Linked DNA regions of Homo sapiens. The protein of the gene in region 2 interacts with the protein of the main gene of each other region in a biochemical or structural test. Each region holds a gene or a part of one and is shown on either strand. Other genes may lie near its edges. The genes, in order: HDAC1, PARP1, EP300, POLA1, UBE2I, MACROD1 and CDKN1A.

The links.
Region 1: the proteins of PARP1 (region 2) and HDAC1 form a complex in vitro, tested with the Homo sapiens proteins (2 studies listed by BioGRID, with this or other methods).
Region 3: the proteins of PARP1 (region 2) and EP300 form a complex in vitro, tested with the Homo sapiens proteins (2 studies listed by BioGRID, with this or other methods).
Region 4: the proteins of PARP1 (region 2) and POLA1 interact in far-western blotting, tested with the Homo sapiens proteins (one study listed by BioGRID).
Region 5: of the proteins of PARP1 (region 2) and UBE2I, one has a biochemical effect on the other in vitro, tested with the Homo sapiens proteins (4 studies listed by BioGRID, with this or other methods).
Region 6: the proteins of PARP1 (region 2) and MACROD1 form a complex in vitro, tested with the Homo sapiens proteins (one study listed by BioGRID).
Region 7: the proteins of PARP1 (region 2) and CDKN1A form a complex in vitro, tested with the Homo sapiens proteins (2 studies listed by BioGRID).

Annotation. Positions count from the first base shown.
Region 1 is NC_000001.11:32,326,583-32,330,082, reverse strand, and holds part of HDAC1 (histone deacetylase 1), read right to left. Parts: intron 3,145-3,500; coding exon 3,006-3,144; intron 2,940-3,005; exon of another isoform or gene 2,625-2,939; intron 2,548-2,624; coding exon 2,406-2,547; intron 1,016-2,405; coding exon 923-1,015; intron 1-922. UniProt on the Homo sapiens protein: Histone deacetylase that catalyzes the deacetylation of lysine residues on the N-terminal part of the core histones (H2A, H2B, H3 and H4).
Region 2 is NC_000001.11:226,377,094-226,380,593, forward strand, and holds part of PARP1 (poly [ADP-ribose] polymerase 1), read right to left. Parts: intron 3,072-3,500; coding exon 2,829-3,071; intron 2,549-2,828; coding exon 2,480-2,548; intron 2,182-2,479; coding exon 2,049-2,181; intron 211-2,048; coding exon 15-210; intron 1-14. UniProt on the Homo sapiens protein: Poly-ADP-ribosyltransferase that mediates poly-ADP-ribosylation of proteins and plays a key role in DNA repair.
Region 3 is NC_000022.11:41,151,592-41,155,091, reverse strand, and holds part of EP300 (histone acetyltransferase p300), read right to left. Parts: intron 3,260-3,500; coding exon 3,080-3,259; intron 2,887-3,079; coding exon 2,742-2,886; intron 98-2,741; coding exon 1-97. UniProt on the Homo sapiens protein: Functions as a histone acetyltransferase and regulates transcription via chromatin remodeling. Acetylates all four core histones in nucleosomes. Histone acetylation gives an epigenetic tag for transcriptional activation.
Region 4 is NC_000023.11:24,710,918-24,714,417, reverse strand, and holds part of POLA1 (DNA polymerase alpha catalytic subunit), read right to left. Parts: intron 1-3,500. UniProt on the Homo sapiens protein: Catalytic subunit of the DNA polymerase alpha complex (also known as the alpha DNA polymerase-primase complex) which plays an essential role in the initiation of DNA synthesis.
Region 5 is NC_000016.10:1,323,136-1,326,635, reverse strand, and holds part of UBE2I (SUMO-conjugating enzyme UBC9), read right to left. Parts: exon of another isoform or gene 1,907-3,500; coding exon 1,843-1,906; 3' UTR 1-1,842. UniProt on the Homo sapiens protein: Accepts the ubiquitin-like proteins SUMO1, SUMO2, SUMO3, SUMO4 and SUMO1P1/SUMO5 from the UBLE1A-UBLE1B E1 complex and catalyzes their covalent attachment to other proteins with the help of an E3 ligase such as RANBP2, CBX4 and ZNF451.
Region 6 is NC_000011.10:64,152,614-64,156,113, forward strand, and holds part of MACROD1 (ADP-ribose glycohydrolase MACROD1), read right to left. Parts: intron 1-3,500. UniProt on the Homo sapiens protein: Removes ADP-ribose from aspartate and glutamate residues in proteins bearing a single ADP-ribose moiety. Inactive towards proteins bearing poly-ADP-ribose.
Region 7 is NC_000006.12:36,684,773-36,687,832, reverse strand, and holds the end of CDKN1A (cyclin-dependent kinase inhibitor 1), read right to left. Parts: intron 2,382-3,060; coding exon of another isoform or gene 2,323-2,381; exon of another isoform or gene 2,083-2,322; coding exon 2,033-2,082; 3' UTR 501-2,032; downstream 1-500. UniProt on the Homo sapiens protein: Plays an important role in controlling cell cycle progression and DNA damage-induced G2 arrest. Involved in p53/TP53 mediated inhibition of cellular proliferation in response to DNA damage.

The DNA.
Region 1 (3,500 bases), about 190 Mb from region 2:
GCTGAATGACTACCTGACCTTATTAGGTTAAGCAGTTTCTTACTGTTTATAAGTGAAGATTTAACTCCTTGGCATGGCATTCAAGGCTCCCTTTGAAATACTGAGCCCAGCATACACTTCCCACCGCCTCCTTCAGCACTCCTCCCATACACCACACTGGCCTACATGCTGCCACACTGGCACCTCTGCACTTCTGCTAGTGCCATTCCTTCTACTAAATGCCACCCTTACTGCCATCACCTCCTTCTTCACATGGGCACCTCCTCATTTTCCAAAGTCCAGCTTAAACATCAGCACCTCTGTGAAATCATCCCTGGCTACCCTCCTGCCAGCCCAGGCAGTAGTTTGTCTCTCATTCCTCTGATCATCCCTCAAAAACACAGGCACTAGGCCAGCCTACCCATGGAACATGCCACACAGCCTTTCCAGAATCTCTGGATGGGCTGACTGGCAAAGGGCTTTCCCAGACAAAGCCAGTCTGCAAAGACTGGAGTAAGTCCCTACTTCTTCTAATGTGCAGACATCAATGTAAGGCAATGAGGAACACAAAAAACCAAGGAGACATACCACTACCAAAAGAACACAATAATCTCCCAGCAGCCCAAAGAAATGGAGATACAAAAACAGTACTAATCATAGACTACTGGGTATGTGCCTGCCTTCCCCACCATAGTCCGTGAGGGCAAAGATCATGTCTTAGATATTTTTGTATCCAGCAGAAGACCTGACCCATAGAAGGAACCAATAAATATGGGTGTTTGTTCCCCTAACTGACCACACAGCAATCCAGGGTTCAAACACTTCTATCTCCCCACCAGCTTTAGTAAGGAGAGATTCCTGAGGTATGGTGGGGGTGCTTTGCTCCCCTCCACCGCCAACCAATCCCCTGTTTGTAGCCCAAGGGGTGGATAAAGCCACTTACCGGCTTGAAAATGGCCTCATAGGACTCGTCATCAATCCCGTCTCGGAGCGGGTAGTTAACAGCATAATACTTGCCTTTGCCAGCCCCGATATCCTAATTAAAAAGGCCATTAAAGTAAAACTGAAGGATGAAGCTTGAAGGAAGGTCAAGGATAGGGGCTGGAGGGATAAAGGAAGAGGTTCAAGAGAGACAAGCTAGGCCCATGATGTGGGCCAGGACAGAACAGAGGTACCTTGTTAGTACCATTCTCTTCACTGGCAAATCTAGCTTCACTGGCAAATCATCTCTGGACATAGCATTAAGCCTACCCCCAGACTGAGAGCTCTTGATGGGACCAGAGATTGAATAGCCTACCCTATAGCACAAGATTTCTACCTTGGGATTGGGTTAGAGCTGGCTGGCAGGTGAGTCACAGAAGTGACAGCCACCCTTGACAACCCTTTCCACTCCAGAGAGCTCTAATGCTCACTCCTCTTCCCCCATGCTCCCTCTCTAGGGTGTTGTGGAGGGAAGGAGAGAGGTAAGAAAGTCCTTCCCAGTAACCTCAAAATAGTGAGTGCGCCTATTTAAGTCCAGCACTTTGGGAGGCTGAGGCGGGTGAATCTTGAGGTCAGGAGTTCGAGACCAGCCTGGCCAACATGGCAAAACCCCATCTCTTTTAAAAATACAAAAATTAGCCGGGCATAGTTGCACGCACTTATAATCCCAGCTAAATCCCGGCTATTCGGAGGCTGAGGCACAAGATCGCCTGGAGGCGGGAGGCGGAGGCTGCAGTGAACCGAGATCACGCCACTGCACTCCAGGCTGGGTGACAGAGAGAGACTGTCTCAAAAAAAAAAAAAAAGTGAATGCTCATTTATTCTAACGCTTGCCATGGCAAACAACTGAATTAGTGCCACTTTTTTACCCAAGGGCTACCAGGCATGGCAAAGCAGCTGATTTCACCACATTCATGCTAATAGAAGCAGATGGAACAGTTCAACGAAGTAGCTTCCAAGGATTCTTATCCTAAGGTTCATGGATGGGCTTCAGTAAGGGGACTTGTCTATTAACTATTCTATATCAGATGTAAAATCTCATGTACTTTTCTGGAGAGACAGTCCATAGTTTTCAGTCAAAAGGCTAAAGGGGAAAGTGACCCAAAAACATGAAGAACACTTGAGATGTCCTTCAGAGTCCCAATTCCTACCCCCAAACTCAAGGCTTATGAGACATAAGAATAGTGTGATGCAACCCAGCTGTGGCCAGGAGGAAAGTACAGTGAGTCAGGAGACCCCTCTTCTTTCTCTGGCCCTTTATGTCCCATCATTCCCTTCCTCCAGAATAAGGAAGGGAAAGAGATCAGGGCAAGTGCTTCAGATTGGGATGTGGTATTCTGATTGGCAGAAGAGGCAAGAAGCAATTTTTAGTGGCATGAGATAGGAGAGAGAAGTAGAGCTGCCAGCTGAGGGTAAGCCGGTTGGCTCCTAAAGGGCGTTCTCACCCGTAGGTCCCCAGTTCCTGGGAAGTACTCTCCATACTTATGAAAGGACACAGTCATGACCCGGTCCGTGGTGTAGAAGGCCTCTTCCACGCCGTCACCATGGTGAATATCAATGTCAATGTACAGCACCCTCTGGTGATACCTAGGATCAGAAGGGGGTCAGGGGTCTGGGGGCTCTTTGGGGATGGGACGTGCCAAGGGCGCTAGCTCCCAGCTTACCGGGCTGGCTGCCTCCCTCAGGTATCTCTAAGCACCAGAGACGTGGAAACTGGCTGAAGGAAGGTGGAAGAGCGGCCGGGTGTCTCCAGAGGCCTGACCAAGCCGACCAAGTCCGATCTTCCTACTCTACAGCCAGGGTCAACTCCAGCCACACAGGGACACTCTGGAGGCAGGATCTGAGCAGCATCTGCCCCTGATCATGCCGTGGCTCAGATCAAACCAAGACCCCATCAAGGAGATGATGGCCAGAGACACTCACCGAGCACATCCTAGCCAGCACATCGGTAGGAAAAGCAAACTAGGGAGGCAAGCCCAGGGGAAGAGGGAAATGGGAACCTGGCCTAAGGTGCTCTTCCAAGAGACAAGGCCAGGCAGGCATACTTTAGCAGTTCCAGGATGGCCAAGACGATATCATTGACGTAACAGAAGCCAGATGCCTCGGACTTCTTTGCATGGTGCAGGCCCCCAGCCCAATTCACAGCGATGTCCGTCTGCTGCTTATTAAGTTTCACAGCACTTGCTGGGCATGAGAAAAGAGAACATAAGCCTGTTACTAAGCCACTCTCCCCTTCCTCCAAGAAGCCCAGGGAACCTAGTGAAAGGTTAAGACCTGCCTATTCAACAGCTGTATTGTGCAATTCATAGACCAGTCCCCTCCCTCCCACCCTACTTCAGCAGGGAATACATGATACTGTCTACTCGTAAAAAACGATTTTCCAAACTGAGGGTAGTAACCCATTAGCAGGCCTTAAAATTGATTTAGTACATCATGATTAGTGTGTGTGTGTATATATATATATATTTTTTTAATGAAATAGCATAGAAAAAAATATCAGAGTAACAGTAAGGGTAACTGCTCTTTTGTAAAACTCTGGC
Region 2 (3,500 bases):
CATTATGTGGTTACCTGGCCATAGTCAATCTCCAGGGGGTAGAACTTTTTGGGATACTTCGTGAAATTTTTGGAGTGCCAAGCGTTCCCGGTTTTTTCTTCATATAATTTCATGAAGTGCTCAATGGCATCCTCCTTGGACGGCATCTGTTCCAGTTTGTTGCTACCGATCACCGTACCCACACGGCCCCAGGACCTGAATATCCAATACCTGCAGTGGGAAGGAGGGTGTCAGATACACATGTGTGGGTCAGCTGTCCCATTTCAGGAGCTCCCCTTTCCTGCCATTACATTCACGTGGGGAAGAATTTTACACACCCCAAAAGGATGGTGATTAACACAGAACAAACACAACTGCTATAACAATAAAGGGTCTTTATTTTACTTTTCATTAAACTTTCAAATCATATTGACTACAAAAAATGCCAAAGAATAGTTTAAACTTGGTTCTGGCAGCCAAGCCTGAGGACTGAATCCTGGAGTCTGGAGACCTTTGCATAAAAATGATTCTAGTCCTCTCCCCAAAGAAATACAAAGTACTATCTGGAAGTCATGTGTTCAAGGAGTCAACCCTTACAGCTGTACCCTAAAAATAATGAAACTTTCAACTCAGATCCAAGGCCAAGACATGATGAAATGAGGGGGGCAGTGGCAATGGCTCCTCAGGTCCGGTGACCTAGAGATGCAGGCTGTCATGTTCAAATTCCATCTCAATTGAGGGTACACATCACACACACCCAGCTGCTGTGCTGCTCAGCTTTGGATGAGCTAATTTTTGATTAACTCAAAGCAGAGGTAATGCAACACTTAATTGTCATTTCATAATAAATATATATATATCATAAACCCACATACAAGATTTGTGTACATTTTAAAGATAGAACTACAGATTTCAAAGAAAATTTGGGACTCCCTGGCCATTCTCTGGGCTACTGAACAGGGGTATAAAAATTCATTCTCTGCTTGGTTTTTCCTGTGAAAATTTTTGAGAAGCACTACCTTGATCTACGTTGAAAATTTTTTCTGACCCTAACAGCCTACACCACCCTTTCACTTAACACCAGGAAATCTAAGCCACCAGAAAAATGTCCACATCCACAATCAACGTTAGAATTTAGTAAGAGTTCCTTCCACATGCCTTTACACTGACACATAAATGCTATTTTGTGGTGGCTGTACTGAGGGGCAATGAACTCACTAGATAAGGACCACTCTGCCTAGAAACATAAGGACAAAAGCCAGCCCAACCTCTCACCACCTCCCAGCTGCTGTACCCCACCATCCACACTCCAACCTTGCCTGTCTCACCATGTTAAAAAAAAAAAAAGGCAAATCCAACCTCTTTAGTTACTAGGGAGTTTGAACATTAAAGAGTAAGTTCAACGCTTGCCAACCTTTATTTGCTTCAAAGTTTTAAAACATATGTAAAATCAGAAAATCTTGATTCAAGTAGCTGAAAGAAAAGCCAGCTGGGGCTGGGTGCAGAGGCTCATGCCTGTAATCCCAGCACTTTGAGAGGCTGAGGCGGGAGGATCACTTGAGTCCAGGAGTTTGAGACCAGTCTGGGCAACACAGCGAGGCCCGTCTCCATAAAAAATAAGGCATGGTGGTGCGCACCTATAGTCCCAGTTACTCAGGAGGCTGAGGTGGGAGGATTGCTTGAGCCTGGGAGGTCAAGGCTCCGCTGAGCTGTGATTACGCCACTGCACTCCAGCCTGGGTAACAGAGCGAGACTATTTCAAAAAACAAAACAAATAGTTGCAAAACAACAACAAAAAACAAAACACCAAACAAAAAGAAAAGCCAGCAGAAGAATATGTGAAACCATACCTTGGGACAACTGTACAAGGACAGCAACGCTACTGGTTAGTAAGTGGCTTCTTTCTCCCCTTTAAGCAAAGGCCTTATAATTTGTTTTTGATCTCTGTGATTAGATTTCATTCCCCAGGCACTGGGCCTAACGGGTTTCACAAGGCTGATGGCACAGCACTAACCAATGCAGGACGGGCCCATGTCTCTGCACAACCAGGCTACACCTGCAGAACTCACCTGTTTTCCTTGTCGTCCTCCAGAAGCTGCAGCTTGTAGTAGGAGTTGGTTCCTTTAACGATGTCCACCAGGCCAAGGGTGGCACTGAAGACCTTCCCACCTTTCTCCAGGACATGCGCAGAGTGTTCCAGTCCTGTCCCAGAGGAAAAGCACCTACAGTTTTCTCTCCCCTTGAGGTGCTAGCACTCTCACGGAGAAGGGATCTGCAGGCCTGAGGTTCACGCCTCTTGGATACACTACCACCACCCTCGGGAGGCTCCCCACAAATGTGTGTTCTCAGGACTGGGGGAGCTGGTGAAGGAGGCCTGAGTGAGGACAAAGGCACGACCACACTGCCCCAGGTATGCTGCGGGCATTTGGATGTGTGCTCCTAGTCAGCTGGGGGTTGGGGGGCGGCACAGCCCACTTTGCTGGCAGTCCTGTTTGCTTACCAGAATCAGGATCCACAGCTGCTCCTCCTTTAAGAGTTAATTTCATTCTCTTTTCAGATTTGTTGATACCTTGGAGGAGAACAGAAAAATGTAAACATGAAGTTAAATGTAACTAAAAAGTAAGGGGAAGGTAGAAGGCAAATGAGTTGTTCTCATTCCCATCATCTGTCAACTCGGCATCTATATACACACTACTCCCGCCACCCCAAAGCGCCTGCCATTCTGTGTCCTGCTCTGCAGCACTCAACAGGCCATGTCAGGGACACAAAGGGAGAGGTTCCGTGGACAACAACCTGGCCACCAATGTCCCTGGCTTTTGGCCCTGGAGGGGGCAGCTTGGGGCCCTCACCTTCCTCCTTGACCTGGCCCTTGCTTTTTTTGGAGAGCGCAGCCCCTGACTTCCCTCTTGGGGCCACAACTTCAACAGGCTCTGCCTTCACCTCTGCCCCCCAAGGGGACAAGATGTGCGCTAAGAACAACTCCTGAAGGCTCTTGGTGGAGGCGGAGACGTCCTGGAGGAAGTCCTCAGACACAACTCGGATGTTGGCTTCCTTTACTTCCTCCATCTTCTTATTCATCTTTTCCACCTCCTCTGTTCAAATTGAAAGGAAAAAAAACCAAAATACAAGTTTAAAACAAAACTGAAACTTCAAATTACTACAGTTATATTTAGTGTGTACTTCCAAACCCTCAGCATTCACAGCTCTCCTTTGCTTCCAAGTCTAATGCTCCCAAGAGTGTTTTTATCAGCAACATTCCCCCTTTTCTAAGGTATGATGAGCCAGGGCAGCCTTCTCCAAACCATTCTACAGCACGATGTTAACAAACACTCCAAAGAAAAAACACCCTGATGTCAAATATGTATGGGAAATCCTGTATTCTATTTCTCTGGTTCCTGAAGACCTACAGTGGTAATCAGCATAATAAACCCACACAGAAACCTGTTTAGCTTTGTTTTACCCTACCTTTTCCAAACATACTTGAACCTTGAACTTCTGTTTTGGCAGATATCTATGCACAT
Region 3 (3,500 bases), on a different chromosome or scaffold from region 2:
TCCACAGGTTGACGAAAGGGAAGGGATTCTGGATCCTGACGGTAAAGTGCCTCCAAAGTTGGCATCAGTGCCTGTCGTAGTTCTTCTGGTTTGAAAACTTAAAAAAAAAAAGTGCATTTGAAATTAGTTACCAATTAAGCAGAAGAACTTTAAAAAATCATTCAGCCTGAAGCTCTAAAAGCATCTCAAGAATCAATAACAAAATTAACCACTCTGTCCCCATGGAAATATCACTACAGGCTCAATCACTGATTCTAGATTCTAAGCCCCGCTTTGTTTCAGACAGCTCCTAAAAAACATTGTGTCTTATCACCTTAAAACACTCTTCACCCTCAGCTTAACTTTTCAGTCACAAAGTCAGTGAAGACAGACTCGGTCAATTAGAAGCAGAATCCAAAGGCTTCTAAAAATTTATGAAGAGACTTTGCCAAATAAGAGTCCATGGGACCAGGCACGGTGGAGGCTGAGGTGGGCAGATCACTTTGAGGTCAGAAGTTTCAGCCTGGCCAACATGGTGAAACCTCGTCTCTACTAAAAATATAAAAAATTAGTCGGACATGGTGGCATGCTAGTCTCAGCTACTCAGGAGGCTTGAGGCAAGAGAACTGCTTGAACTCGGGAGGCAGATGTTGCAGTGAGCCGAGATGGCGCCACTGCACTCCAGCCTAGGCAACAGAATGAGGCCCCATCTCAAAAAAAAAAAAAAAAAAAAAAAGAGTGCACAAGATACTCGTGTTAAGAGGGAGATGCAGTCAAGCAAGAACAGAAAAGTCTTTCTTCATGACATCAGTATTTAACAAGTCAGAAACTAGACTAGATCAGGTATTGTCTTATACTACAAGGAGTCAGGGGCACAGAAGAGAAGACTCCTTCGTTCAAATGCTTGGTATTTTAGAGCCAAAGAAAAAGAGACATGTACTATTTTAATGACAAATGTTAGGTTTAAGTTTAAAAGAAGAGAGAACAAAAATGGTATTGCTAAAATAATAGACTTAGTTGATCAAATTAAGTTCAAATGTGTTCTCAATGATATTTCCCAAAAAGTCCGGAAAAATTTGTTGGTGTGTCCCAAATGGAATCAAACAGTTCTTTGAGAAGCCAGTGATTTAAAAAGCTTTCAATTTCAGCAAGGGCCTTATTTTTTCTTAATTGGCAAAAAAAATTTCATCATCGGTAGAGTATATTTGTTACTTCAGATAATTTTCACCTCTGGGGGGTTGCCATGGAGTGGGGGGAAACCAGACTACGAAGATGCTTGTCACTCATATTTAGCTGTGCTAAAAATAAGGACTATTTGAATAAACTTGTGAAATTAGACATTTTATTTTATTTATTTGTTTGAGACAATTACTCTCTGTCACTCAGGCTGGAGTGCAGTGGCGCCATCTTGGCTCACTGCAACCTCCTTCCATCTCCCGGGTTCAAGTGATTCTTCTGCCTCAGCCTCCCAAGTAGATGGGACTACGGGTGAGAGCCACCACACCCGGCTAACTTTTGTACTTTTAGTAGAGACAGAGTTTCACCATATTGGCCAGGCTGGTCTTGAACTCCTGACCTCAAGTGATCTGCCCGCTCGGCCTCCCAAAGCGGTGGGATTACAGGCATGAGGGAACACACATTTTAAAGAGAGATTGCCAATAGTAAGACTGGGTTTGTTACAGCCCATATTAAAACACCTCAATATATACAAGTCTTATTTTTAAAATGAAAATAATTTTTTAATCCCAACATTTTACAACACATTGTATTAATGGAACACTTTTCAATATATATCATCTGTAAGAGCCAGCAGACTCACTCCTCAGGTATGTCCTACCTGGTGCCTTTTGCAGATCACTAGAGCCACAAAAGTTCTAGTCCTAAAATAGTCAATTAACACTTGTTGGAATGGCTGGATTTGAGCACTCTGCCTCAGACTGCCTGGGTCTGCTTCCTGGCCCAGGCAGTAGGGTCAGCTGAGTAACCTGTGGAAAGTTACTTAACTTTGCTAAGCTTCAGGCCAATAACCTCAGAGCTGTTGTGAAATTATTAAATGAGGCCGGGTGTGGTAGCTCATGCCTGTAATCCCAGCACTTTGGGAGCTCGAAGCGGGTGGATCACCAGGTCAAGAGATCGAGACCATCCTGGCCAACACGGTGAAATCCTGTCTCTACTAAAAATACAAAAATTAGACGGGCATGGTGGCATGCGCATGCAGTCCCAGATACTCGGGAGGCTGAGGCAGGAGAATCGCTTGAACCTGGGAGGTGGAGGTTGCAGTGAGCTCAGATCCCGCCACTGCACTCCAGCCTGAACAACAAAAGTGAGAATCCGATTCCAAACAAAAAAGAAAAGAAAAAGAAAGAAAGAAATTATTAAATGAGACAATGTGGATACTTAGCACACAGCAGGTGAATGACAAATGCTATTACTATTGCTATTCTTTCCTGCATTTTAGTCAAGGCTATTTACAAACATTTCTCTCTCCTGAAAAATGAGACAATTTTTAGGGTGTACTAACACAGGGAACCCTGAAGAAATGAGGGGAATGACTTAACTCATTGGTTGCTGCAAGTGAATATTAAAAAAAAAAAAAAGAAAGAAAAATTATTAGTAACAATGAAGAGACCAGGCCCAGGGCTTCCAGGTTAATGAAATCACAATAATGGCAACTTCTGAGGCCCAAGAGGCATGACCGCAATTCTGCCCTGGGTCTTTGGTTTCTTCAGCTACCTCCAGAACGAATGGCTTCAGAGACTCACTCTTTTTCTTTGACTGTCCTGGAGCCGGAGATGACTGGGTAGCTGAAGTACTTGGCTGGTCTTCCTCCTCTTTTATTTCAGTTTTTAACTCAGTGCTTCTCTCTTCTGTTTCGGTAGATTCCATTTTACAGTCTTCCACTTTAGACTAAAAGAAAACGTAAGAATTTTTAGTATTCCAAAGATATCTAGTTGGGAATCAGTAATCTGAACACCCTTTCTCATGCAAAATCTATGCCATGAGATCTAATTATCAAAATATTTTTCTGCAATATTTTTTAAAACTTGGGTTCCTATACTGAGGTCCTAACCAAATCAAACAGTAATTGCCCTACTCTCACCTCTGAAATATCCTCCGGCTGAGTATCTGCTGGTTCTGGTTGATCCACTTCCATTTTGGCCTCCATCTTCACTTCCTGGGAAGGCTGCTTCTCAGCAATGGCCTGAGAATTCACTTCTGTGCTACTAGTAGATGGAGGATTTGATACCTGTCCTTCAATGCTTACAGCTGGCTGGGAAAGCTGGGCAGAAAAAAAAGGGAAGTAGGTGAGACACACGCAGAGTCTGCCAACGATACAATCAGAATGTAAGGTAAGCAACAGGATAGCAGAATTAGCCACCTATTTCTTGGCTTATATTTATTCATGGTGCTTTCATTTGCTCTGCCCATTTCACCTCCCTTAATTATGCTTAAGAACAGGAGAATTAAGACTTGTAAATACTGGTTGGCTGATTGTACATCAAAGAACCAGCAACTATTTC
Region 4 (3,500 bases), on a different chromosome or scaffold from region 2:
TTGGGAGGCCAAGGCGGGAGGATCACGAGATCAGGAGATCGAGACCATCCTGGCTAACACAGTGAAACCCTGTCCCTACTAAAATACAAAAAATTAGCCGGGCATGGTGGTGGGCGCCTGCAGTCCCAGCTACTCCAGAGGCTGAGGCAGGAGAATGGTGTGAACCCAGAAGGTGGAGCTTGCAGTGAGCCAAGATCACGCCACTGCACTCCAGCCTGGGCGACAGAGCAAGACTCCATCTCAAAAAACAAAACAAAACAAAACTATGAGATTCTATACAAGGTATGTAGGAAAAAATATTTTAAATGAGTTTAATTCAAGAAAACATGGGCCAAATGTTTTTATAGAAACTAATGAAATACCAGTTAAATATCAGCATAAGTGTGACTGCTTAACTGCTATTGTTAATGTGAATAAAAAGCTTTTTAAAAAAGTGAGAATTTGGGTTTGTTTTCCCCACAGAAATAAAAAGATAAAGCTAATCTTGAACCAAGAAATTAGCCTAGTAGCCTTCATGAGATCATCTCTTTAGCTGTATACTGAATCTGATAGGAAAATTTAACTGTGAAGAAATGGGATTACCAATTATGATATGGTGGCATCCTAATTTCCATTTTATGAGAAACAGCAACCAGATACACAGTATGTCATATCAACACTAAACAGCACAGAGACATCTGCTCATTAAAGAACAACTTTTGCTGGCCGGGTGCGGTGGCTCACGCCTGTAATCCCAACACTTTAAAAGACCGAGGCGGGCGGATCACGAGATCAGGAAATCGATACCATCCTGGCCAACATGGTGAAACCCCATCTCTACTAAAATACAAAAAATTAGCCAGGCGTGGTTGCCACATGCCTGTAATCCCAGCTACTCGAGAGGCTGAGGCAGGGAAATCGCTTGAACCCCGGAGGCGAGATTGCAGTGAGCTGGGATCGCGCCACTGCACTCCAGCCTGGCAACAGAGCAAGACTCTGTCTTGAAAAAGAAAAAAAACAAACAAAACTTTTGCCATATGTTTTCTCTTACGGCTATGTGTAAATCACCTACAAACTTTTCTAATACCGTCAATTTTACTCTCGCTTTCTGATTCATCCCAGAATAGTCCTGATCTCAAAAAAAAGCCAACAATGAATAATTGAAAGAATGTGGTAGGCCAGGCGCGGTGGCTCACGCCTGTAATCCCAGCACTTTGGGAGGCCGAGGCAGGCAGATCACGAGGTCAGGAGTTCGAGACCAGCCTGACCAACATGCTGAAACCCTGTCTCTACTAAAAATACAAAAATTAGCCAGGCATGGTGGTGCATGCCTGTAATCCCAGCTACTCGGGAGGCTGGGGCAGGAGAATCGCTTGAACCCAGGAGGCAGAGGTTGCAGTGAGCCGAGATCATGCCATTGCACTCCAGCGCTCCAGCCTGGGCAACAGAGCAAGACTCTGTCTCAAAATAAAAAAATAAAAAAAATAAGAATGTGGTAGTGGCATACAAATAGACCAAATGAAACAGAACATAAAGTCCAGAATAAGACCCAATTACTTATGGAAATTTAATATATAATGAAGGTGGCATCCCATATCACTAAGGAAAAGATGGACTTTATTAAGTAGTGTTGGCTAGCCATTTGTAAAGAAGTAAACCAGTATAAACACCAAATGGATCACAAATCAAAATTTTTAAAAATGAAACTTTACAAAAACCTTTTAAAAAGCAATTCCTTTGCAATTTGGGTCCAGTGAAAATCTTTCTATGACTCAGAATCCACTTGCAAGAAAAAAAATGATAAATTCAATTACACCAGAATTGGTGTAAAAAGAAAAACCAAGAAAAAAGAAAACCAAGTTAAAAGAAAAATGAAGAAAAAATTTGTGCAATATGTATCACAGATAAAGGACCAATTTCCCTGACAAAGAACTTTTAAAAACTTAAAAGATAAAAAGCCCAAAAGGAAAGCAGGCAGTAAACACAAACATATATAAATAGTTACGTTTTATGAAAAGATGATCAATTTCATATGTAAAAGAAATGCATATGAGGCTGGGCATGGTGGCTCACATCTGTAATCCCAACACTTTGGGAGGCCACGAGGCGGGCGGAATACGAGGTCAGGAGTTCGAGACCAGCCTGGCCAACATAGTGAAACCCCATCTCTACTAAAAATACAATAATTAGCCGGGCATGGTGGCACACACCTGTAGTCCCAGCTACTTGGGAGGCTGAGGCAGGAGAATCGCTTGAAACCAGGAGGCGGAAGTTGCAATGACCTGAGACCGCACCACTGCACTCCTGCCTGGGTGACAAAGTGAGACTCAGTCTCAAAAACAAACAAACAAAAAAAAATGCAAATGAAAACCACACTGAAATGCCACTTCTCACATATCAGAGTGGCAAAAATTCAAAAGCTTGAAAACACTGTTAGTAAGGCTGTAGAGAAACAGACATTCATACATTGTTCATGAGAGTGTAAAATGGGACAGCTCCTATAAAGAATAGGCAATAGCTAATAAAATTTTATGTGTAGTGGGCTGGGCGTGGTGGCTCACGCCTGTAATCCCAGCACTTTGGGAGGCCAAGGCGGGTGGATCATCTCAGGACAGGAGCTCGAGACCAGCCTGGCCAACATGGTGAAACCCCGTCTCTACTAAAAATACAAAAATTAGCTGGGTGTGGTGGCAGGCACCTGTAATCCCAGCTACTCAGGAGGCTGAGGCGGAAGAATCACTTGAACTCAGGAGGCAGAGGTTGCAATGAGCCGAGATCGCGCCATTGTACTCCAGCTTAGGCAACGAGCAAAACTCCATCTCAAAAAAAAAAAAATTTATGCGTAGCTACTCTTTGAGCCAGCAATCCCACTTCTGGGAATTTTCTCTGAGGAAAACGCCATATGCACAGAGTTATTGGATGTGGCATTATAATAGCAAATTACTCAAAATAATCTAAATGTCCTTCCAAGGAAACCATTTGAATAAACATTGTGCAATCCCTATCATGGAATACTATGCAGCTACATAGAAATAAATAATTAAAAACAAGCTCTCTATGTTCTAATATGGGGTAATTTTCAAGACATCTTGCTACAAGAAAAAAGCAAAGTACAAAACCTCTATAACATTATCTTTTGTTTAAGAAAGAAAAGGGGCCGGGCACCGTGGCTCATGCCTGTAATCCCAACACTTTCCCAGGGCAAAACGGGCGGACTGCTTGAGCCCAGGAGTTTGAGACCAGCCTGGGCAACATGGCGAAACTCTGTCTCTACTAAAAACACAAAAAATTAGCCGAGCGTGGCAGGATGTGCCTGTAGTCCTGGCTACTCGGGACACTGAGGTGGGAGGATAGCTTGAGCCCAGGAGGCGGAGGTTGCAGTGAGCCCAAATCGCACCACTGCACTCCATCCTGGACGACAGAGCAAGAATCTGTCTCAGAAAAAAGAAAGAAAAGGAAATAAAAATACATATACATGCCAGCGCGGTGGCTCACACCTGTAATCCCAGCACTTTGGGAGA
Region 5 (3,500 bases), on a different chromosome or scaffold from region 2:
AATTCCCCAGGTAAGGCCCCGTGTTATAAACAAACCACAAACATCAGACGTCAGACCGAGAGCTCAGTGACTGCAGGGTGCGTAGCCGGAAAAGCCAACAAGGCACTGGCACCGCAGAGTCGCTGGAGGGGTGGTGGGGGGCACTGCCGGCTCGGGGGGCCTTTGGAAGTCACCTCTAACTTCGATTCCCAGCCAACAGCGGCTGGAGTCCCACACGGACCTGGAGGGTGCCGAGCTCCCCTTCCCAGGGCCCTGGACCGCCCTCCCTGCATTCTTTGCTCCTTTGGGGAGCCCCGCCCTGCCCTCTTGGGACCCTGCACTTGGGCCACGGGGACCCAGCTCCAGCCACCGGGGGGTGCCAGGGCAGCAGGGCCAGCTCCAGCCCCAAGGCTTGAAACGAAACTGAGGAGGGCCAAGCTCGCTAGGATGGGGAGACTGGGTTGGGAGCCAGAGGTTGGAGGGCTGGGAGCACCGGGCTGTGTCCCCCAGGGCTTCCCATCTCTGTCCACTGTGCCTTCCTGCTGGGAGGTGACCGGCACCCAACTTCCCAGCCAGGCCACTTCCTGCAGTGGCTCAGGCAGCCCCAAGAGGCCTGGCCGGCCCAACCTTTGCAGAGGGCTCAGCGTCAGGACGGCTGCTGAGGCGCACAGCCTCCCCAGGACAGACCACACTCAGGTGGCCTCAGGACGAAGAATTCCAGACACAGGCTGCCCAGGGCCCTCTACCTGGCGCTAAGGGTCGGGGAAGCCCTGGAGGGCCACGGCTGTGGGCTCTCCCAGAAAAAGCACCTGGCGTTTGCCACGGGTGGTAGCAAGGCTGCCTCCTGAGGACACAAGGGACAGACACCTGAGGTGGCACCCTATGCACAGCGCAGCTCCATCCCTGTGACCTGGCCACTGAAGAGGGGAACCCCCGCCAGCAGGCTGCCCGGATAGGAGTCCTCAGGCAGCCCCCAGCCCTGGTCTGGACCTGGCCTTGTGGCCCCCAAGACAGCTGGCACCGGTGCAGTTGCCAGGGTCTCGATGCCAATCCCGACCTATGCAGATCTTAGCTGCCCAGCGCTCTACAGCCCGCAGATGCGGGGAGCACAGAAACCTCAGCAGCACTTTGTACACAGCCCTGTTTACAAAGATCCAGGGCAAGACAGAGCCTCACAGCCTGCGTGCATCCGAAGCAGATGGAGAGCCTGGTCCTGGCCCGCGGTGGGGCTGCAGGTGGGTGGGGAGGGCCGGGCACTGGGAGGCCGCCTCCTCTCACTTTCAATGATAATAATGCAACCAAAACCTTTATATAAACAGTTTATTTACTCTAAACAGCAACACAGACAAAACGCCATATAAACACAAAGGAAGTGGCGCAGAACCGAGATGCTGACCTGGGGTCTGAGGCTCAAAAGCAGCACAGCCCAGGTTCTAGAAGGTTCTAGAGAGGAGCGGCAGGAGGGAGGGTGCATTTCCATACAGCCAGCTGAGGCCAAGTGCAGCTCTGCACGGTGAGAAGCATGCCTGCATCCCAGAGCGAGGAACTCGCCCCTGGGGGACTTACCCAAGTATAAAAGTTTATAATTTTACAGCAGTTGAAATACTGACATCAATATTAAAATAAAAGCGAGTTTTACATAACAATCAAAAATACAAAAGACCGAAGGAAGAGACCCTGTATGGAAACGGGCAATTCAGCGAATCGAGACCGCACACCCGCGGCGGCAATGGAAGATGGCGCCCGCCCAACCCCCCCAGGTGACTAGTCATTGTATGGAGCAACTTTAGATTTGCAAAAATGTTGTAAACAAGTTCTTGCCAAACCAATCCCTTCCTTTTGACGATGCCACAAGGTCGCTGCTTATGAGGGCGCAAACTTCTTGGCTTGTGCTCGGACCCTTTTCTCGTACTCCACTCTGTTTTGGCTGAGGAGGTCAAAAGAGAAGAGACGTGTTAGAGGGCTGAGCTGCCTGGCCCTCACGCTCGCCCCGGAGCCAGCTGGGCAGACCAGGCTGCAGGATGGGACCTCCTGGGGGAGGGCAGTGTGGAGCTCGTCATAGTAACAGAAGCAGAAGCCCGGAGAAGCAGGGAGGCCTGCGTGGTGGGGAGCCCATGCTGGCTCTGACGTGGCTGAGACTGTCCCGTGGTCTGACGGGGGCAGAAGGGCAGGGAGGAGAGGAACCCACGCTGGGTGAACGTGGTGTTCAAGGGGGACAGAGGGGTCCCGCAGGGCTGCGAGGAGGGCTCAGGCCCAGAGGGCCCACGCCAGGGCCTGCAACATCGTTGCCGATGCCAAGTCTGGTCCTAACTAGTAATCAGCAGCTTCTCTTTTCTGTAGGTCTGGGGACAGTCCTAATAAACTGAAAACACTGACTGCTTGCCACTGTTTTTGTTAATTCCCAAAAATAGACACCAATTTCTGGAGGGTTTTTCCATGAGGCTCTCAGCCGCAGGGGCAAAGGTGTGGGAAGGCAGGCCTGGTTGAGAAGGCGTTGTGCCCGAGCTGGGCAGTGCAGGGGCATCAGCGAACAGGTCTGGAGCTGGGTAGAGTGAGGCTCAGCCTGCAAGCAGCTGCCCAGGAGAGTGGCATGGCACACACTGCCCGGGCAAAACAGGTGGGCGGGAGGGCGGCCGAGGCTGCACCTAGGGGCTGATGGGTCACAGGGTGCAGTGTGACCCTGAGGATGGGGGAACACCATGACATTTATGGAGGTGGCTCCTGGGGTCGCAGTCCTGCCAGTCTCGCCAGGATTGGACCTGGTCTGAGACACTGAGCCTCACTCTGCATGGTGGAACAGCCCAGGACGGCAGCAGCGCCGGTGCCACCCCCACCCACGCCAAGGGCCTGGACCGCAGCCCAGACCCCAGCGCCCTCCTTGGGCCACCAGCCGGCCCCAGGGCAGAGCAGCTCAGCTGGGTGGGCGTGGAAGGAACCAGAGGCGGTGGCTACACGTCCCAGCTCTTCCTTGACCAAGCAGAGGCCCCGAGAAAAGGCACCTGCCAGGGCAGGAACACGGTCCAAGGCCTCCAGGAAACCCAGGAAAAACGATCTGAAACCCGCACACATGCTTCACAAAGGGTGCTTTTCAAGCGGATGTGTGTAGGAGAAAGAACGTTTGTTTACGTGCACGCAAGTGTACAGTGCAGCCCAGCAGGCACCAAGCCCAGGAGACGCTGGGGAGAGTCACACGGGGCGGGGGACTGCAACCCTGCCCAGCCCACGCCGCAGATGGGAGCCACAGCCCAGCTCTGGAGATGGTCGGCAAATGGGGTGCAGGCCAGACAGAGCTCACGCCCACACCATGCTGGGGATGGCAGACCATCTAAGGGCTAGGCAGGAAAACATTTGCCTTTTGTTTTGTTTTTTTGAGACAGAGTCTGGCTCTGTTGCCCAGGCTGGAGTGCAGTGGCGTGATCTCGGCTCACTGTAAGCTCCGCCTCCCAGGTTCAAGCCATTCTCCTGCCTCAGCCTCCCGAGTAGCTGGGGTTACAGGTGTGCGCCACCACGCCCGGCTAATT
Region 6 (3,500 bases), on a different chromosome or scaffold from region 2:
GCTGAGGGACTGGCTCAGGCATCGCAGACCTGGGTTGTGATGAATTCAGCTCTGCCACTTTCCAGCAGCGTCCACATCTCTCTGGGTCCCCCGTTTCTCCCTGATTAGAACGGGGGTGAAGACGTCCCCTGCAGAACAGCTCCGAGCTTCCTCCCACACACTAAGGCCAAGCCGGTTGGCAGCACTCAGCCAGCGACATTATCCATCAGTCCCACCGCCAGTCAGTTCTGCCCTCACTGTCACTGCATGCAGGCAGCGGGACAGCTGTCCTCCTCCAGGAGCTGCAGGACCAAGTGGACCTGGCACCTGTCCCCAACATCCCCCCCGGCAGCGGCTGAGGGCTCCCAGCATGACCAATGGGGTTGGAATCGTTCTCGTTTTACAGATGAGGAAACCGGGGCTCAGGGAGGTTGGGAGGCCACCCTCACACAGCAGGGACTTGAGTGAGGAGCCAGGCACCCCCCACCCGCTCACAGACTCGGGGTCCACCCTGGCCGGCTCCCCTTGCCTGAGCACTGTCCCATGGGCTCCGCCTTCCCTTGGGGGTGGCACCAGGCACAGAAACCTGGAACCCGTCTCAGAAGGGCCCGCCCCGACCGCGCCAGGCCAGGCTAGCAGCTCACGGGCTCCCCCTGCTGGCCCGAGGCCGCCTGCACACCCAGGCGCTCAGCCCAGCCTGGCACCCTGGACCACAGGCTCCCGGGATGGGGCAGCCCCCACGGCAAACAGCAAAGGCTACAATTGAGAAACTCAAAAAGCATCAAAAAATATGTAGAGGCGGGAGAGCAATTAGAGGAGGTGGTGAGAAAGGAAGGACTGCAGCCTGGAAGCTTCTATGCACATGGCAGTGAGGGGGACAGGTAGGTCCCTCCACAAATGTTCAGGGAGGTTGGGAGGCCACCCTCACACAGCAGGGTGTTTTCCCGGCCAGAGTCACTTCATCATCCAGGCCTCCATCTCCTCATCTAACCACTGCTGGCAGGGGTGATAACAACCCAAGGATGCTGAGAGCATTAGATGACAGAACTCATGCAAGGGGCCCAGTCCAGAGTCCCTGCTGGATGCAAAGGTGGGGTCATCACAAAAGGCTAGGCCCACCCCTGGTCAGCCCCCACTGCTGCTCAAGCCAGAGCCACCTTTCCTGGCAGCCACTTCTGCCCCCTCTTCCATAAACATGTTTGGGCACGAGTAGGTCCTGCATTCAGTACCAGCGCTGCCACCTGCCAAGCCCACCTCCCAGAGGACTCACTGCTGCAGGTCCCCCTCCACCAGGCTGTCCTGCCTGCCCTCAAATAATCCCGTCCCCTCCCTCAACGCCCGCATTCCACGCCCCTGCAGCTGCCCCCTCCTCTGCTGTCTCCACTTCTTCCCTCCCATGCTCCCTTCAGTCCACCCAGTCTGGTCCCTCCTTCCAACAAGGTCAAGGTCACCACACCCCATGCAGCGGCCCCTCCTGCCTTCCCTGTGGACAGGAAGTGTCCTTGCTGCTTTCCTCCCTAGGTCTTCTAATCAGTTGCACAGATTCAAAACGCTCTTTAAGCAAGCAACCTCCGGGGCTGTCCCTCCACTCTCTTCTGAGCCTCTGACCCCCACAGTGCCTGCCTGCTCTCATTCCCCAAAGCCCAGGCATGCAAAACAGAACGTTTGACTCTTTCCCCCAAAACGTCATTTTTTTGTTGCTCCATTCTTCCCTCTTTTTTACTCGAGACCCTGCACCAGGGGTCCCTCCCTTTCCATCCTCTTTTGGATTGATCCCCGTGACACCCTAGAAACCAAGCCTTCCTCTCACCCTCCAGGACTGAGCCTTCCTCATGGCTCCCTAGATCCCACAGACGCTCCCAACTCCCAGCTGATCTCCGTGTGCATCTCATCCCCATCTGTTCCTTGACCGGCAGCCATGGATCCTGGGAACATAAATCAGGTGCCATCCCTCCTCTGTTCAAAACTGCATTCAAACGCCGGTCCTCTGGCCTCTCTCCCACCTCACTCCCAATGCTGCCTCCCCCACTACACCAGTTCCCCAAACAGCCAGGCTGCTTCCTGCCCCAGGCCCTTTGTACCTGCTGTGCTCTGCAGGATATGGGATAGTTTGCTTTTGTTTACACTTATTCTTTTATTTTTTTTTGAGACGGAGTCTCACTCTGTCGCCCAGGCTGGAGTGCAGTGGCACGATCTTGGCTCACTGCAACCTGCACTCCTGGATTCAAGCAATTCTCCTGCCTCAGCCTCCCTAGTAGCTGGGATTACACGCGTGTGCCAGCACACCCAACTAATTTTTGTATTTTAATAGAGATGGGGTTTCACCATGTTGGCCAGGCTGGACTTGAACTCCTGACCTCAAGCAATCCACCCATGTCAGCCTCCCGAAGTGCTGGAATTACAGGCGTGAGCCACGGCGCCGGCCCCCTTTCTTGATCTTGGCCATCTTGACCTGTAGGTTCCATAGGGGATCTGCTGTGTTTGCCATCAGATTCCCACCACCTGGCACGGTGTGTGGGCACCTGAGGGTGCCTGAGGGGCACGCTGAGGAATAAATGAGCCAAGACCAAAGGTTGAGGGCGAGTTTGCTAAGTACAGAGTCTTCTAGGCAGAGGGAACAGTATGTGCAAAAGCCCAGAGGTAAGAGGGAGCCAGAGATGATCCCCTAATTAAAAAAGAAAAAAAAGAGAGAGAGCATTTGGGTGGAGAAAGTGAGGCCAGTCGGTCTCTCCAGGTCTGCCTCCCTGTCTGAGGACGGACAGATGCTGGTGGCAGCCGGCCTAGACCCAGGCTGCGCCTTTTCTTCTGTTATAGGTCCCGCCAGGTTTGGGTTCGTGACCTCCCAACACCATGCTCAGTTTGAAGCCTTGGGTTTTCCCATCTCTGGAATAGGGACAAGGCAGGCCTTCCCTTGCTAACACCCAGGCTTGCTGGGAGGGTCAAAGGAGAAGGTGGCTGTGTGCTGCAAAGTGCGGTCTACACGCCAGACACACTCACTCCTTCCTGGCGGCTAAATAATGCCCAAAGAGAACAAAGCAAACAGGACAAAATTGTGGAGAACTTTTTTTTCCAACTTGGGGACACAGCAGCCGGAGGAACTTTTCTAATTATTTGGGTCCCCAGCACTTGGGGAGACCAAGGCAAGCCAATCACCTGAGCCCAGGAGTTCGAGACCAGCCTGGACAATATGGAGCAACCCCATCTCTACCAAAAAATACAAAAAATCAGCTGAGCGGCCGGGCATGGTGGCTCACACCTGTAATCCCAGCATTTTGGGAGGCCGAGACAGGTGGATCACCTGACATCAGGAGTTTGAGATCAGCCTGGCCAACATGGTGAAACCCCATCTCTACTAAAAATACAAAATTAGCCGGGTGTGGTGGTACATGCCTGTAATCCCAGCTACTCGGGAGGCTGAGGCAGGAGAATCGCTTGAACCTGGGAGGCGGAGGTTGCGGTGAGCTGAGATCACACCATTGCACTCCAGCCTGGGCAACAAGAGCAAAACTCCATCTCAAAAA
Region 7 (3,060 bases), on a different chromosome or scaffold from region 2:
CATGTTGGCCAGGCTGGTCTTGAACCCTTGGCCTCAAGTGATCTCCTGCCTCAGCCTCCCGAAGCACTGGGATTCTAGGTGTGAGCCACTGCGCCCGGCCCAAACAGTTTTTTTAAATAAGAGATCCAGTTGCTCCATAACCTTGCCAATGCTTGGCACTGTCAGTCTTTTTTAATCATTCTGGTAAGTGTATGGTGGTATCTTATTGTGGTATCTTAATTTGCATTTATCTGATGAATAATGATGTTAAGCTATAATATATTCTTTACAAAAAGATTACACAACAAACCAAAATATTGACATTGGTGATCTTTGCAGAGGTGTGACAGTAGTTTTTGTTTTGCTGTTGTTTTTTGCAGCAGTCTTTCTGTTTGCTAAGTTTTCTGCATTCTCTAAATTTAAATGCTTAATTTTTAAAATTATTTAATTATGAAATCCTTCCCAAAAGCCCATTTATTTGTTCTTATAAGGTATAATAACCACAATAGTAATATTACAAGTAAAGTCACTAAGAATCATTTATTGAGCACCTGCTGTATATTCAGCATTGTGGGAGGAGCTGTGAAAGACACAGAACAGTACAGGGTGTGGTCCCTGCCCTCGAGAGGTTTACAGTCTAGGTGGAGAAACGGGAACCAGGACACATGGGGAGCCGAGAGAAAACAGTCCAGGCCAGTATGTTACAGGAGCTGGAAGGTGTTTGGGGTCAGACCCCAATACTCCAAGTACACTAAGCACTTCAGTGCCTCCAGGGGCTCAACGTTAGTGCCAGGAAAGACAACTACTCCCAGCCCCATATGAGCCCACGTGGCATGCCCTGTCCATAGCCTCTACTGCCACCATCTTAAAATGTCTGACTCCTTGTTCCGCTGCTAATCAAAGTGCAATGAACTGGGGAGGGATGGGGTGGATGAGGAAGGTCGCTGGACGATTTGAGGGGCCAGTGTCTCCCTCCTAGAAAGATCTACTCCCCCATCATATACCCCTAACACAGAGATAACCCCACTCAAGGGGGCCTGTGCCACCACATGGGACCCTCACCCCCACAGCTAGAGGAGGGGGCGGTCGCTGCTTGAGCTGCCTGAGGTAGAACTAGGGTGCCCTTCTTCTTGTGTGTCCCTTCCCCTTCCAGTCCATTGAGCTGGGGGTGGGGGTGGGACAGGCACCTCAGAGCCACCTGGAGCTGAGAGGGTACTGAAGGGAAAGGACAAGGGGGAGGGACAGCAGCAGAGGGGAATTGCAGAGCCCAGCTGGAGAAAAAGGGTAGCTGGGGCTCCTCAAAAGGTACAGGGGAGCCAAAGAGGGAAAAGGCTCAACACTGAGACGGGCTCCCCAGTGCAGGTCAGAGGGGCCATGAGGGCAGGCGGGGTGGTCTGCTCCAGGACCCCACCTTCCCCCTGCCTTCACAAGACAGAGGGGGGTATCAAGAGCCAGGAGGGTACCAGGTCCCCAGCTCAGCCCTAGGCTGTGCTCACTTCAGGGTCACCCTGCCCAACCTTAGAGGAGGTGAGGGGACTCCAAAGTTTTTGATGATGCCCCCACTCGGTGAGGCCCCTTCAAAGTGCCATCTGTTTACTTCTCAAATGAAAAAGAATTCAGGTCTGAGTGTCCAGGAAAGGGGGTGAATTTCATAACCGCCTGTGACAGCGATGGGAAGGAGCCACACCCCTCCAGAGGGTACCACCCAGCGGACAAGTGGGGAGGAGGAAGTAGCTGGCATGAAGCCGGCCCACCCAACCTCCGGGAGAGAGGAAAAGGAGAACACGGGATGAGGAGGCTTTAAATAGTATTTCATAAAATAAAAATGCCCAGCACTCTTAGGAACCTCTCATTCAACCGCCTAGTTTTTGTTTAAATAATTCTAATGCCAGAGGCTGGGGGGCAGGGGGCGGCCAGGGTATGTACATGAGGAGGTGTTTAAATTAAAACACAAATAATAATTAAGACACACAAACTGAGACTAAGGCAGAAGATGTAGAGCGGGCCTTTGAGGCCCTCGCGCTTCCAGGACTGCAGGCTTCCTGTGGGCGGATTAGGGCTTCCTCTTGGAGAAGATCAGCCGGCGTTTGGAGTGGTAGAAATCTGAGGAGAGACAGCAGAAGTCAGCCAGGCCAAGAAGAAGAGGACGCGGCGGAGCTGCCCAACTGAGGAAGACAGTGGGGGGCCAGGACACCCTTCCCTGGGGCCAATGGGGCCGACTGCTGAGAACAGGAAGAACTCGGGGAACGTCCACTCTGTCTCTTGAGGGGTATTATGGAGTGTCCCACCATGCTTCACAGATGTGATTTTATCCATCACCGCACCCGCACCCATGGGTCTGCTCTAAGTCAAGCTGCCCAGCAGAGGAACCACTACTAGCTCTGTGTGCTTGTTTAAACAGACTACAATCAAATAAAATGAACAATTCAGTTCCTCAGTCACATGAGCTGTGTGTCAAATGCACAACAGCCGTATGTGGCTCGTGGCCCCTGTACCGGACACTCCCATCCCTGCAGAGTTACTGGACAGTGCTGATCTAGGGATTCTGTTACAAAATCCATGAAAGTGTTCAGCACAATGCCGGGCCCATATAAACGTCAGTAGTTGTTGTTATTATAATTAGTCTTGACCCAACGGCAAATTCACTTTGAGACCTTAGATAAATCACTCTACCTCTCTGAGCCTGGTTTCCTTGCCCTAAAAGGATGGCAAGGGGCTGGGCATGGTGGCTCACGCCTGTAATCACAACACTTTGGGAGGCTGAGGCAGGAGGACTGCTTGAGCTCAGGAGTTCAAGACCAGCCCGGGCAACATGGTGAGACCTTGTCTCTACAAAAACTCAAAAAATTAACCGGGCGTAGTGGTGTACAACTATAGTCCCAGCTTCCCAGCTACCCAGGAGGCTGAGGTAGGAAGATCGCTTGAGCCCAGGAGTTTGAAGCTGCAGTGAGCCATGATCGTATCACTGCACTCCAGTCTGGCCAACAGAGTTAAGACACCTGTCTCAAAAAGAAAGGCGGGCAGGGTGACAAGAATGTCTTATGTTATAACATTGCTATAAGGACTAAATAAATCTACCTT